Linked DNA regions of Homo sapiens: region 1 is linked to region 2. The links come from fine-mapping of genetic effects on gene expression. A gene starts in region 2. The other region holds a variant in brackets. All regions are shown on one strand. Distances are from middle to middle. Region 1 holds the start of SLC39A5 (solute carrier family 39 member 5). Region 2 holds the start of MYL6B (myosin light chain 6B).

What was found. PIP is the estimated chance that this variant, and not a neighbour inherited with it, causes the effect.
Region 1: its variant is fine-mapped to the expression of MYL6B in blood mononuclear cells (TOPMed, PIP 0.95).

Annotation. Positions count from the first base shown.
Region 1 is chr12:56,229,147-56,234,473 of GRCh38, forward strand. NABP2 (nucleic acid binding protein 2) reads left to right here. Exons shown (of 7, transcript NM_024068.4): 7 at 1-708. The coding sequence ends at 67. SLC39A5 (solute carrier family 39 member 5) reads left to right here and starts at 905. Exons shown (of 13, transcript NM_173596.3): 1 at 905-976; 2 at 1,094-1,149; 3 at 1,685-1,727; 4 at 2,058-2,415; 5 at 3,543-3,726. The coding sequence starts at 2,129. The variant T/C (reference allele first, on the strand shown) is at 2,115.
Region 2 is chr12:56,149,904-56,155,270 of GRCh38, forward strand. MYL6B (myosin light chain 6B) reads left to right here and starts at 2,684. Exons shown (of 8, transcript NM_002475.5): 1 at 2,684-2,728; 2 at 3,970-4,189; 3 at 4,910-4,937; 4 at 5,152-5,295. The coding sequence starts at 4,016. LOC124902942 reads left to right here and starts at 1,924. Exons shown (of 3, transcript XM_047429954.1): 1 at 1,924-2,144; 2 at 2,503-2,728; 3 at 3,906-3,994. The coding sequence starts at 2,091. The coding sequence ends at 3,940. MYL6B-AS1 (MYL6B antisense RNA 1) reads right to left here. Exons shown (of 3, transcript NR_186043.1): 3 at 893-1,082. LOC124902943 (a long non-coding RNA gene) reads right to left here and starts at 3,970. Exons shown (of 2, transcript XR_007063328.1): 1 at 3,226-3,970. RefSeq lists an enhancer at 1,758-1,837.

The DNA of each region.
Region 1 (5,327 bases), 79 kb after region 2:
CCCGCCTGGCCCTTCCAGCAACCCTGTTAGTAACGGCAAAGAAACCCGGAGGAGCAGCAAGAGATAGCATGACATTCTTTCTTCCTGCCACCAACCACATCCCAAGTGTCCCCTGGAGAGCAAGATAGCCTTCCACTGATTGGCTGGTGTAGCAGTATTTTAGCCACTGAACTTCAGTGGAGGGTGGTGAGCAGTGTCCTTATCCACCCTAATCTCATACTCCCTCATTGTCCAGCTGAACTACCTGTCCCCTGGGAGTCAGGACCCTCTGCCTGCTCTCTTTCCTCTTTAGAAATGGCAGTTACTGGCTGGGCGCAGTGGCTCACGCTTGTAATCCCAGCACTTTGGGAAGCCGAGGTGGGCGGATCACCTGAGGTCGGGAGTTCAAGACCAGCCTGACCAACATGGAGAAACCCCGTGTCTACTAAAAATACAGAATTAGCCAGGCATGGTGGCGTATGCCTGTAATCCCAGCTACTTAGGAGGCTGAGGCAGGAGAATCTCTTGAAACCGGGAGGCGGAGGTTGAGGTGAGCCGAAATTGCACCATTGCACTCCAGCCTGGGCAATAAGAGCGAAACTCCATCTCAAAAAAAAAAGAAAGAAAGAAAGAAAGAAAGAAAGAAATGGCAGTTACCATCTGTTTCTTCTGTGTGAGACATGGGAGTCTAACTGAAGTCTCTCCTTCCTAATAAATGTTACCACTCTACTCTGTGTTGGACTCCTTTGCTTTCTGTGGGAAAAGGAAGAGGTTAGCAACTAGGCATTTGGGAAGGTGGGGTGTCCCTAGAAGGTGGAAGGAAAATAGGTTACAGGTAAGGAGGCCCAGGCAAAGCAGACCTGCCCCTTTAAGGTAGTGTCCCTCCCCTACCCCCTCCCTGCAGGTGACCCTTGCCCGCCTGCCTGCCTGCCCCCCCAGCTGGAACCAAGAAGGTTGTGTCCCCCTTCCTCTGGGTGTCCTTGTCTCCTGCTATCAGGTAATGCCAACCTCAACCCCCTGGACCAGTCACCCCGATCAGACTTTGCTTGCCTGATTTTAGGCCAGGTCAGACATCAGAGGAGAGCCCAGATCCTTGTTTCCTCTCCCCCCGCAGGGCTTCCCCTTTCTTGGTCATCGATCCCTAGAGCTCTGGCTCTTTCTCTTCTTGGGGTGAGAAACTGCTAAGAACAGTTTATTTCCCATGCATGCATCTGGGCTTGCCACTGATCTGCCTTTTCCCCCCTCCTCCCCAGGTTAGGGACACCTGGGTCCAACCTTCCCAAGGAATATGGGGATGGGGGTTGGAGATGAAGTTTAGTGCTAGACTGTAAGGTAGGTGGGGTGGAAGTACATGAGGGAAAGGGCTAAAATGGTACTAATGGTGTTAAGGATAGGGTGAATTATTTAAGAGGAAAAAGACTAGGCCCAGGTTCTCCTTAGCCATGTGGCTTTCCCAGGGCAGAGGGTGGCCCCTCCCTACCCAGGGGCCCAGCAGAGACTGACTTTTGATCCCTACCCCAGAGACCAGTGAACCATTAACTCCTCTCTTATGTGAGCCTTCACACACTGGCCCCACCCCTGACCCCGCCCCAAGGCAGGTGGGCTAGGAGGGGGTGCATGTCCATCTCAGCCTTCTATGTGACGTGGCCTCCGATCCACCTGGACACCTGGAGGCTAAGCCTGGATTCCCCCTTCCCTGACTCAGGAACTGCTTAACGTCTACAGCAAGGCCTAATAGGGGACCTGAGGTGACAGCTCTTATGTTGCCAGTAGGGGTGAGGCCCTGGGGATTGAGGGGGGATAAAGAGGTGGGGCAAAGTTGAGGGGTGGGGTTTAGGGGACAAGGAATGGACGGTCAGCTCTGGATGAAGTATGAGGAGAGCTCTGACTCAGGGAGGTGCTCCAGGAACCAGCAAACAAGAGGCTGCTCCCGCAGGAGGCAGTGTGAAGGGAGAAAGAAGGCTGCAGTAGGGGCTGCTGCTGGACTCGGTGGGGAGCAGGTGCAAGGAGCTCTGGCTCCCCCATGGACCTGAGCTGGAGAGCAGAGCGCAGCTCCAGCCCATTCCTCATTCTTCCAGGGCACAGTCCTCAGGATGTTTCGGGGAGAATAGGAGCCAGAACCTGAGCCCCTAAGC[T/C]ATTCCCCTCACCAATGATGGGGTCCCCAGTGAGTCATCTGCTGGCCGGCTTCTGTGTGTGGGTCGTCTTGGGCTGGGTAGGGGGCTCAGTCCCCAACCTGGGCCCTGCTGAGCAGGAGCAGAACCATTACCTGGCCCAGCTGTTTGGCCTGTACGGCGAGAATGGGACGCTGACTGCAGGGGGCTTGGCGCGGCTTCTCCACAGCCTGGGGCTAGGCCGAGTTCAGGGGCTTCGCCTGGGACAGCATGGGCCTCTGACTGGACGGGCTGCATCCCCAGCTGCAGACAATTCCACACACAGGTACTGACCCCTTCCTCCACTCCACAGGGCCACATCTCCCAGGTCCTCTCAGTGCTTGCCCCCAGTTGCCTCGTTCTGGCTTCCTCACGAGATCCCTGGAGTTACAAATTCTTCAGAACCGAGCTCCTTGGTATCTCTTCAAAACCTCTCATGCTTCTATTGCCTTCTCTCTCTTTTCTTGAGACTGGGGGTCTCGCTTTGTCACCCAGGCTAAAGTGCAGTGACACATTCACGGCTCACTGCAACCTCTGCTTCCCAGGCTGAAGCCATCCTCCCACCTCAGCCTCCTGAGCAGCTGGGACCATAGGCACACACCACCACAGCCGGCTAATTTTAAAAATTTTTTACAGAGACAAGGGTTTCGCTGTGTTGCCCAGGCTGGTCTCAAACTCCTGGGCTCAGCTCAGCGATCTGCCTGCCTCAGCTTCCCAAAGTGCTGGGACTACAGATGTGAACTACCACCCTAGCCCTCCGTTGCCTTCTAATTCTCTCCTCCTCCAAATCTCTAAGCCCTTAAATTTCTTGCTCTTAGTATCACTGTTCAGTGTCTCTGGGCTGATTTGGCTCCAAATTCGTAGACTTCTTTTTTCTTTTCTTTTCTTTTTTTTTTTTTTTTTTTTTTGAGACAGAGTCTCGCTCTGTCGCCCAGGCTGGAGTGCAGTGGTGTGATCTTGGCTCACTGTAACCTCTGCCTCCCCGGTTCAAGCGATTCTCCTGCCTCGGCCTCCTGAGTAGCTGGGATTACAGGCACACACCACCACGCCGGGCTAATTTTTGCAATTTTAGTAGAGACGGGGTTTCACCATTTTGGTCAGGCTGGTCTCGAACTTCCAACCTCAGGTGATCCACCCACCTCAGCCTCCCAAAGTGCTGGGATTACAGGCGTGAGCCACCGTGCCCAGCCATTCGTAGCCCTTTTGGTTGTCGTCCTTTTTTTTCTGTCCCCCCCAGTGGCAGAAAATGGACAACTCACAGATCTTCCTAAGAATGACATTCCATGGTTTCTGGGTCCCAGGATCTCCAGTCAGTGGCTAGTCCCCCCATTCCCCCTAAAATCCCTGGGAGCCTCTCAAAGCGGGTTGATAGAGAACACAAGGGAGGCTGACTTGCTGTCTCATCCATTCCAGGCCACAGAACCCTGAGCTGAGTGTGGATGTCTGGGCAGGGATGCCTCTGGGTCCCTCAGGGTGGGGTGACCTGGAAGAGTCAAAGGCCCCTCACCTACCCCGTGGGCCAGCCCCCTCGGGCCTGGACCTCCTTCACAGGCTTCTGTTGCTGGACCACTCATTGGCTGACCACCTGAATGAGGATGTGAGTCTGACGGTCTCTAGAGGGGAAGGAGCCATGGGATTAGATGGCCTGAAATGTTTAAATAATCAGTAGTTTTTTGTTTTGTTTTGTTTTTAAATCCCAACGTGGACCAAGCGTGGTGGCTCACGCCTGTAATCCCAACACTTTGGGAGGCCGAGGTGGGTGGATCACCTGAGGTCAGGAGTTCGAGACCAGCCTGGCCAACATGGTGAAACCCCATCTCTACTAAAAAATACAAAAATTAGCCGGGTGTGGTAACAGGTGTGTGTAATCCTAGCTACTCAGGAGGCTGAGGTGAGAAAATTGCTTGAACTTGGGAGGCAGAGGTTGCAGTGAGCCAAGATGGCACCATTTGCACTCCAGCCTGGGCAACAAGAGGGAGACTCTGTCTCAAAAAAAAAAAAAAAAAAAAAAAAAAAAAAAAAAAAATAGCTGGGCGTGGTGGCACATGCCTATAATCCCAGTTACTCGGAAGGCTGAGGCAGGAAAATCACTTGAACCCAGGAGGCGGAGATTGCAGTCAGCCGAGATTGCACCACTGCACTCCAGCCTGGGTAACACAGCGAGACTCTGTCTCAAAAATGAAAATAAAAAAAATAAAAAAATAAAAAAAAAATATCTCACTGTGGTCTTAGGGGATGTTATTTCAATAGTGAACTATGTTCCCTCTGGGATCAGAGCAGGTGAGCCCATATCCAGAGCTCCAAGACTCAGTTTAGGGGAATAGATGGCAAAGCAGAGAATCTAGAGAAGCAGCCCAGGGTAGGATCTGGATGGTCACCTGGAGAGGAGACCTGCAGGGAATGGATGGCTGTCTTCATCCAGAAAGACAGAGAATATATTCCACTTACACCAGAGGGCAGACAAAGCTGCCTAACCCTGATGGAGGTCCAGTGAGTGCCCATTGCAGGAAGCATTCAAGCTGAGGCTGGATGAACATCGACAGGGCTGTTGAGAGGGAGATTAGATGGCATTTCAGGGTCTTTTCCCTTTTAAGATTCTGGCATGGAGAGCTCTAGTTTTCCAACCAGCTTCATTTATCAAATCAACAAAATGATTGAAATGATCAGAGTTTGCAGGGAAGATGATGACAATGCTCACTAGCACCCAGTTTGCATCAAATTGAATACCTGCATTGGACTGAATATTCACTAATAATACACATTGATTATAAGTACCCTTGGCCCTAGTCCCCAAGGTACCTGCCAGTAGGAGCAAAGGGGACCCTGGGAGAGACCCAGGAGTCTATGCAATGGAAGGACAGGTGTTAAATATATATATATATATTTTTTTGAGGTAGAGTCTGACTCTGTCACCCAGGCTGGAGTGCAATGGCGTGATCTTGGCTCACTGCAACCTCCACCTCCTGGGTTAAAGCAATTCTCCTGCCTCAGCCTCCCGAGTAGCTGGGATTATAGGTGTTCACTACTATCCCCAGCTAATTTTTTTTTTTTTTTTTTGAGATGGAGTCTCACTCTGTCGCCCAGGCTGGAGTGCACTGGTGCAATCTCGGCTCACTGCAACCTCTGCCTCCTGGGTTCAAGCGATTCTCCTGTCTCAGCCTCCTGAGTAGCTGGGATCACAGGTGCACGCCACCATGC
Region 2 (5,367 bases):
TGATCATAAAGCCTGGCTTACTGAGTATTCTTGCCTTTCCCTGCAGGGTAGACTTCAATTGTCCTAGAGGTTCCTTCCCTGTGGTAAGTCCTGGGGTCAGGACTTACTCCAGGGGATGATGTCCTGGGGATCCACCATCGTGTCTCACCACTACCCAAGACACAGACATGGCTTCTGTTCATAAATTCCTATTAAATATTTCTAAGAAACTGGATTTGTCAGCCTCCTTCCTCAACCTCTTAGCTTCCTTGGACTTTGGGGGTAAGTGTGCATAGACCTGTGCACTGCGGAACAGCTCCCCAATGGCTTTCCATATTCTTTCAATCTAATGGGCCACTCTGGACAGCTGAACATGTGGAGGTTCCTGGAGGACGGCATGCCTAGGGAAGGCAAGCAAGCTTCGGACTCACCTCCCTCCCTGCCCACAAAATGCAATCTCTAAGAATATACAGGCCAGTCAAGGTAGGTCATACCTATAATCCCAGCACTTTGGGAGGCACCTGAGATGGGAAGATCACTTGAGCTCAGTTTGAGACTGGGTAACACAGTGAGACCTCATTTCTAGAAAAAAACAAAACCAAAGAAAAATAAGAATATACAAATCACATGCTAAGCAGGGAGAGGAGAGAGGAGAGACAGGCATTTCTCACAGATAATTCACATATATAATCACCCTATGCCCAGTTAAGACCATGTTTCGTCCAGTTCCTGTTATTTATGATCAAGACAGGGATGGCACAGAAAATGAAGGATAGCCTTCCCATCTCTGCAAGGGTCTTAACGTTTTTTCCCTGTACTACTTCTCTATAGAAAATGCTAGAAAGTCAGATGATGCCATAACCACTCATACTTGGCAAAATGCCAAAAATGGGAAAAGGAAAGAAAAAAAATTACAAGAGCCATATTTTGAAATCAATGTCTGCAAAAGTAATGAAAGCCACACAAAGGCATCTATAATGTGGCCCTTTCCCAGTCTTATAACCACTTAAAAATGTATTCCTTCTTCCTCTCCGTCTCTTCACAACACCTATTGATCCTTACTTCATTGATGTAAAATGGGGAAAATATCAGCGACCTCATACCTTGGGAAGATTAAAGGAAAGTTATTTAACAAAAACTTATACAGCACTTATGCTGTGCCAGGCCTATTCTATTTTACACTTTTTTTTTTTTTTGAGTTGGAGTCTCACTCTGTCACCCAGGCTGGAGTGCAGTGGTGCGATCTCGGCTCACTGCAACCTGCCGGGTTCAAGTGATTCTCCGACCTCAGCCTCCCAAGTAACTGAGATTACAGGCGCCCGCCACCAGGCCCAGCTATTTTTTTTTTTTTTTTTTTTTTTTTTTTTTTTTGTATTTTTAGTAGTGACAGGGTTTCACCATGTTGGCCAGGCTGGTCTCGAACTCCTGACCTCAGGTGACCCACCTGCCTCGCCTCCCAAAGTGCTGGGAGGTGTGAGCCACCAAGCCCGGCCCTATTTTACCAATAATAACACTTCGAATCCTCCGAAGAGCCCTATGAGGTAGGTACCATTATCATTATTTTACAGATGAGGAACTGAGGCCCAGGAGAGATAACTAAACCTGCTGAGGGTCACTAACTAGGACCTGGTAGAACCAGGATTTAAATCTGAGTAGGCTGTCTGAACCCCATCCACTTGAGCACCCTCTGAGATAATTTAGCCCCTTCACCGGTACGAGATCTATGGCGGCCTCCAGAAATGGTTGCTAACTTACTATTATCGTTATTTCTGTCGTACAATTCATTTCTACCTTTCCAATAAACTTTCCCCAACCAGTGAACCTCACTTACTGCCCATAAAGTTCACCTGTGCCTCACCACCCTGCCATCGCCCGAGTTTTCTGCTCTGATCTAATCCTCACACGCCTGTGCAGCACCAGCTTCCAACACCAGGTGCACCGCCAGGGTATTTACTGATCCAGTGAGTGAAGGTGGGCCCGGCCGGGCTGGTTCCCATCCTCTGATCAACGCCTAGGGGAACCAGTGAACTCCAATGCTGACCATAAGAGTTTCAGAAAGTAGGGCTGGAAAGCCCAGCCCTCCGCTCAGAGACCTGTGAAGATCGAGGAGGATGGCGCATATGCTGCCGCAGGATGGAAACCTCGATCAGAGAAGGCTGGGGCAGGTGACTGGGCTTAATTGCAAATTTTAACATTTACTTCAGCAACCAGCTCATTAAAAACAAACTACTCTGAGGCCTCTTTTTTTTCTACCAAACCGCGAGAGGAAGCAAAAGAGAGTGCAGCGGTTCTCCCCGGGGCCGTTAAGTGCTTCCAGCTATCTGACCTCCACGCTGCCTGCTGCAGCCTCAATCTTTCCCCAGGTTCTGAGTTCTTTCAGCAGTAGGTCCAGGAAAACAGCCGCCCCGCCCCCTCCACCTCCCGAGACTAGGAGCCCGCCAGGGTTAAGTAGGAGGGATACCCTAGGGGCCCCGCAGGGTTTTTAGGGTTGGGGTGGATTGGAAATTGTTCATTGCCTTTCAGTTCCGGGACATAAAGCGCGCTGGAAGGACACTGAGTCACCAACCACCGCCATGGGCCGGAAGCCACCGCCCTCGCGTCAACTGCAATCTAGAGCGCGGCGCATCCCGTGAGCCCGCGGGGAACTACGACTCCCGGCATGCTCCGCGGCCACCGGAATTAACCCTTCAGGGCTGGGGGCCGCGCTATGCCCCGCCCCCTCCCCAGCCCCAGACACGGACCCCGCAGGGTGAGTTTTTGGGGGCTGAGGAGGGCCATTTTCTTTAAGATTTAGTGGGGGTGCGTGAGTGTGTGTGTGTGTGTGTGTGTCGTGTGTGTGTGATGTATTTTGTAAAAATGGGACAATTTGCAGTCATGAGATTCAGACGCTGTTTTGCGAATGGGAGACCCAGCATCAACCCCGGGGCCTAAGTGGAATCACTGCTATCTTCCTCAGAATGCTACCTAAATCCTTTCCTAATTTACCCCAGAACAAAAGTAGCCTGCAATCCCTCCCCACTCCCAAACGCCCCCCAACTTGGACTCTCTCCCAGCGCCCCTGGCAAGGTTTGTGACCTGGCCCCTGAGTCAGGATTTTTATTATACCCCTGGTTGTGGGGTGAATACTCATGGAGCCATAGGAGCGCCCACATCCTCTTGGATTAGGGAATTTAAGCCGTCTCCCAGAGCCTGCCCTTCTCCTCAGGTGCCACCAAAGGGTCCCCACAGGTTCAGCAAGCACCCTACCTTTTGTTTGTCTTGAATGACCGTGGGCTTGTGGAAGGTTTCTTCCATGGAAGAATGGGTAGCAGATGTTAAACCTGATCTTTGCCCCCACTCCTGCCCCTAAAACAACACTGGGCACAGGAGACAATGAGGGATGTCATACTCCTGTTTTTATGACTATTCTTCCTTTATACTGTGAATAGTTCCAGTTCTTGGCTGGGTGGGGGCTCAGGAACTACAAGTATTAGGGATCATTAGACTCTAAGGTTAACTACCCCTGCTCTTTACAAAGCCATGGTCAGAAGGGAGTGGAGGGGCTGGGCAGATGGGCTTCTTGTTTTTGTCATTGCTCCCAGACCACACTTTAACTTGTTCCAGTTCACACAAGCCTCCCTGGCTGCTACCCCTCACCCCACCCTTCAAGAAGACTAAAGCTGCTGGATCACCTGCTTTGCCTCACCACCCCCATCTCAGTGCCACTGGCAAGCATCCTATCCTCACCCTGGAGGTTAACTACCTCATTCTGGGCAGTCTCTGGCTTCCTCCCCTACCCCTAAAGGAAACATTGTTCTTTTCTGGTCAGCCTTTGGGGATAAGGGGACAGAGGGAAGAAGACCTTGGGGCAGGAGTCCTGAACCATAGGAGGCCAGGGGAGTGAGGGCAGGCGGTTATATCTCTCCTCTACCTCATCTTTGCCACAGCCAACTGGCTCCCTGCCCCTGCCCCCGCCCCTTGACATCCCAGACTCCCTGGCTATTTAAACAGAGATGGGTGCCCCCATCCGCACACTGTCCTTTGGCCACCGGACATCATGCCTCCCAAGAAGGATGTTCCCGTGAAGAAACCAGCAGGGCCCTCCATCTCCAAACCTGCTGCTAAGCCAGCAGCAGCAGGGGCTCCTCCAGCCAAGACCAAAGCTGAGCCAGCTGTCCCCCAGGCCCCTCAGAAAACCCAGGAGCCTCCAGTCGATCTCTCCAAAGTGGTGGTGAGTCTCTGGAAAGTGAAGATAGAATTGGAGGGGGTGGTTTGAGGGTGGGATACAGCCTAGGGGATTAGGGGGTATCTAGAAGGTAGGGAATCAGTGAGCCCTGGAATGAGATTGGGGCTTTCCCTTAGTCCCCCATTTGGAAGCATCCAGTCTTATGACTCTGCTGTTGTCTTTGCTGTTCTCTCCCTCTAACCTATAATCATGTGTGTACAGCACATACACACTCACTTACCCCCTGCTGGAGGCAGGGACTCTTAGATGGGGAACATCTGGGTTCTGAGAACAGTTTCAAGGTGAAGGGAAGAGAGCTGTTGCCTGCCCCTGGCTGGTGGTTCAATTCAAAAGGCCTGCAGCTCTGAACTCCAGGAGGGGAGGCTGAAGAGGACAGACTTGTTAGACAATCACAGCTGGGGGCCAGGGGTAAATTTAGCCTTTGTTCAGCCCCCAGTTATGTGTGGGATGCAGGGCTCAGGGCAATGGAGGGAGGGAAACAGGTGGCATGGGATTAACCCTGTTCCCAGGAAACCCTCCCCACTGTAATTCCTCTTCTTGGGATTCTCCCAAGGCCCAGAGCTGGGAATGGGACTGAGGTGGCTGGGCTTCCAGCCTGGTCCCTTTGGGCCCCTCCTCAGAAGTGGCTGCCAGTTGGTTGGGAGGAGTGCGGGAGAGGGATTGAATAAACTCTCATCTCTCCCCACCTGCTTTTTTCTTCCACAGATCGAGTTTAACAAGGACCAGCTGGAGGGTGAGGAGAAGCTCATCTAAGGCCACTGTCCCATCCCCAATCCCCTGGTCAGATTCTCTTTCTATTCCCCTAACCCCAGTCCTGACCTTGAAACCTCCCATACTAGTCCTCTTTTCCTCCCTTGTTCTGTTCACATAGTTTCTGAAATTCCCTTCTGTCTGGGGGTGATGGGAACCCTAGTCAGTGTCTACACTGACCCTTCCTTATACTTTAGAGTTCAAGGAGGCCTTCGAGCTGTTTGACCGAGTGGGGGATGGCAAGATCCTGTACAGCCAGTGTGGGGACGTGATGAGGGCCCTGGGCCAGAACCCCACCAACGCCGAGGTGCTCAAGGTCCTGGGGAACCCCAAGAGTGATGGTGAGGGGACCCTTGGGAACAATTTGGGTTTTTAGTTTTCAAAAGTTGGATGTTGGTAACAAAAAGAATGAG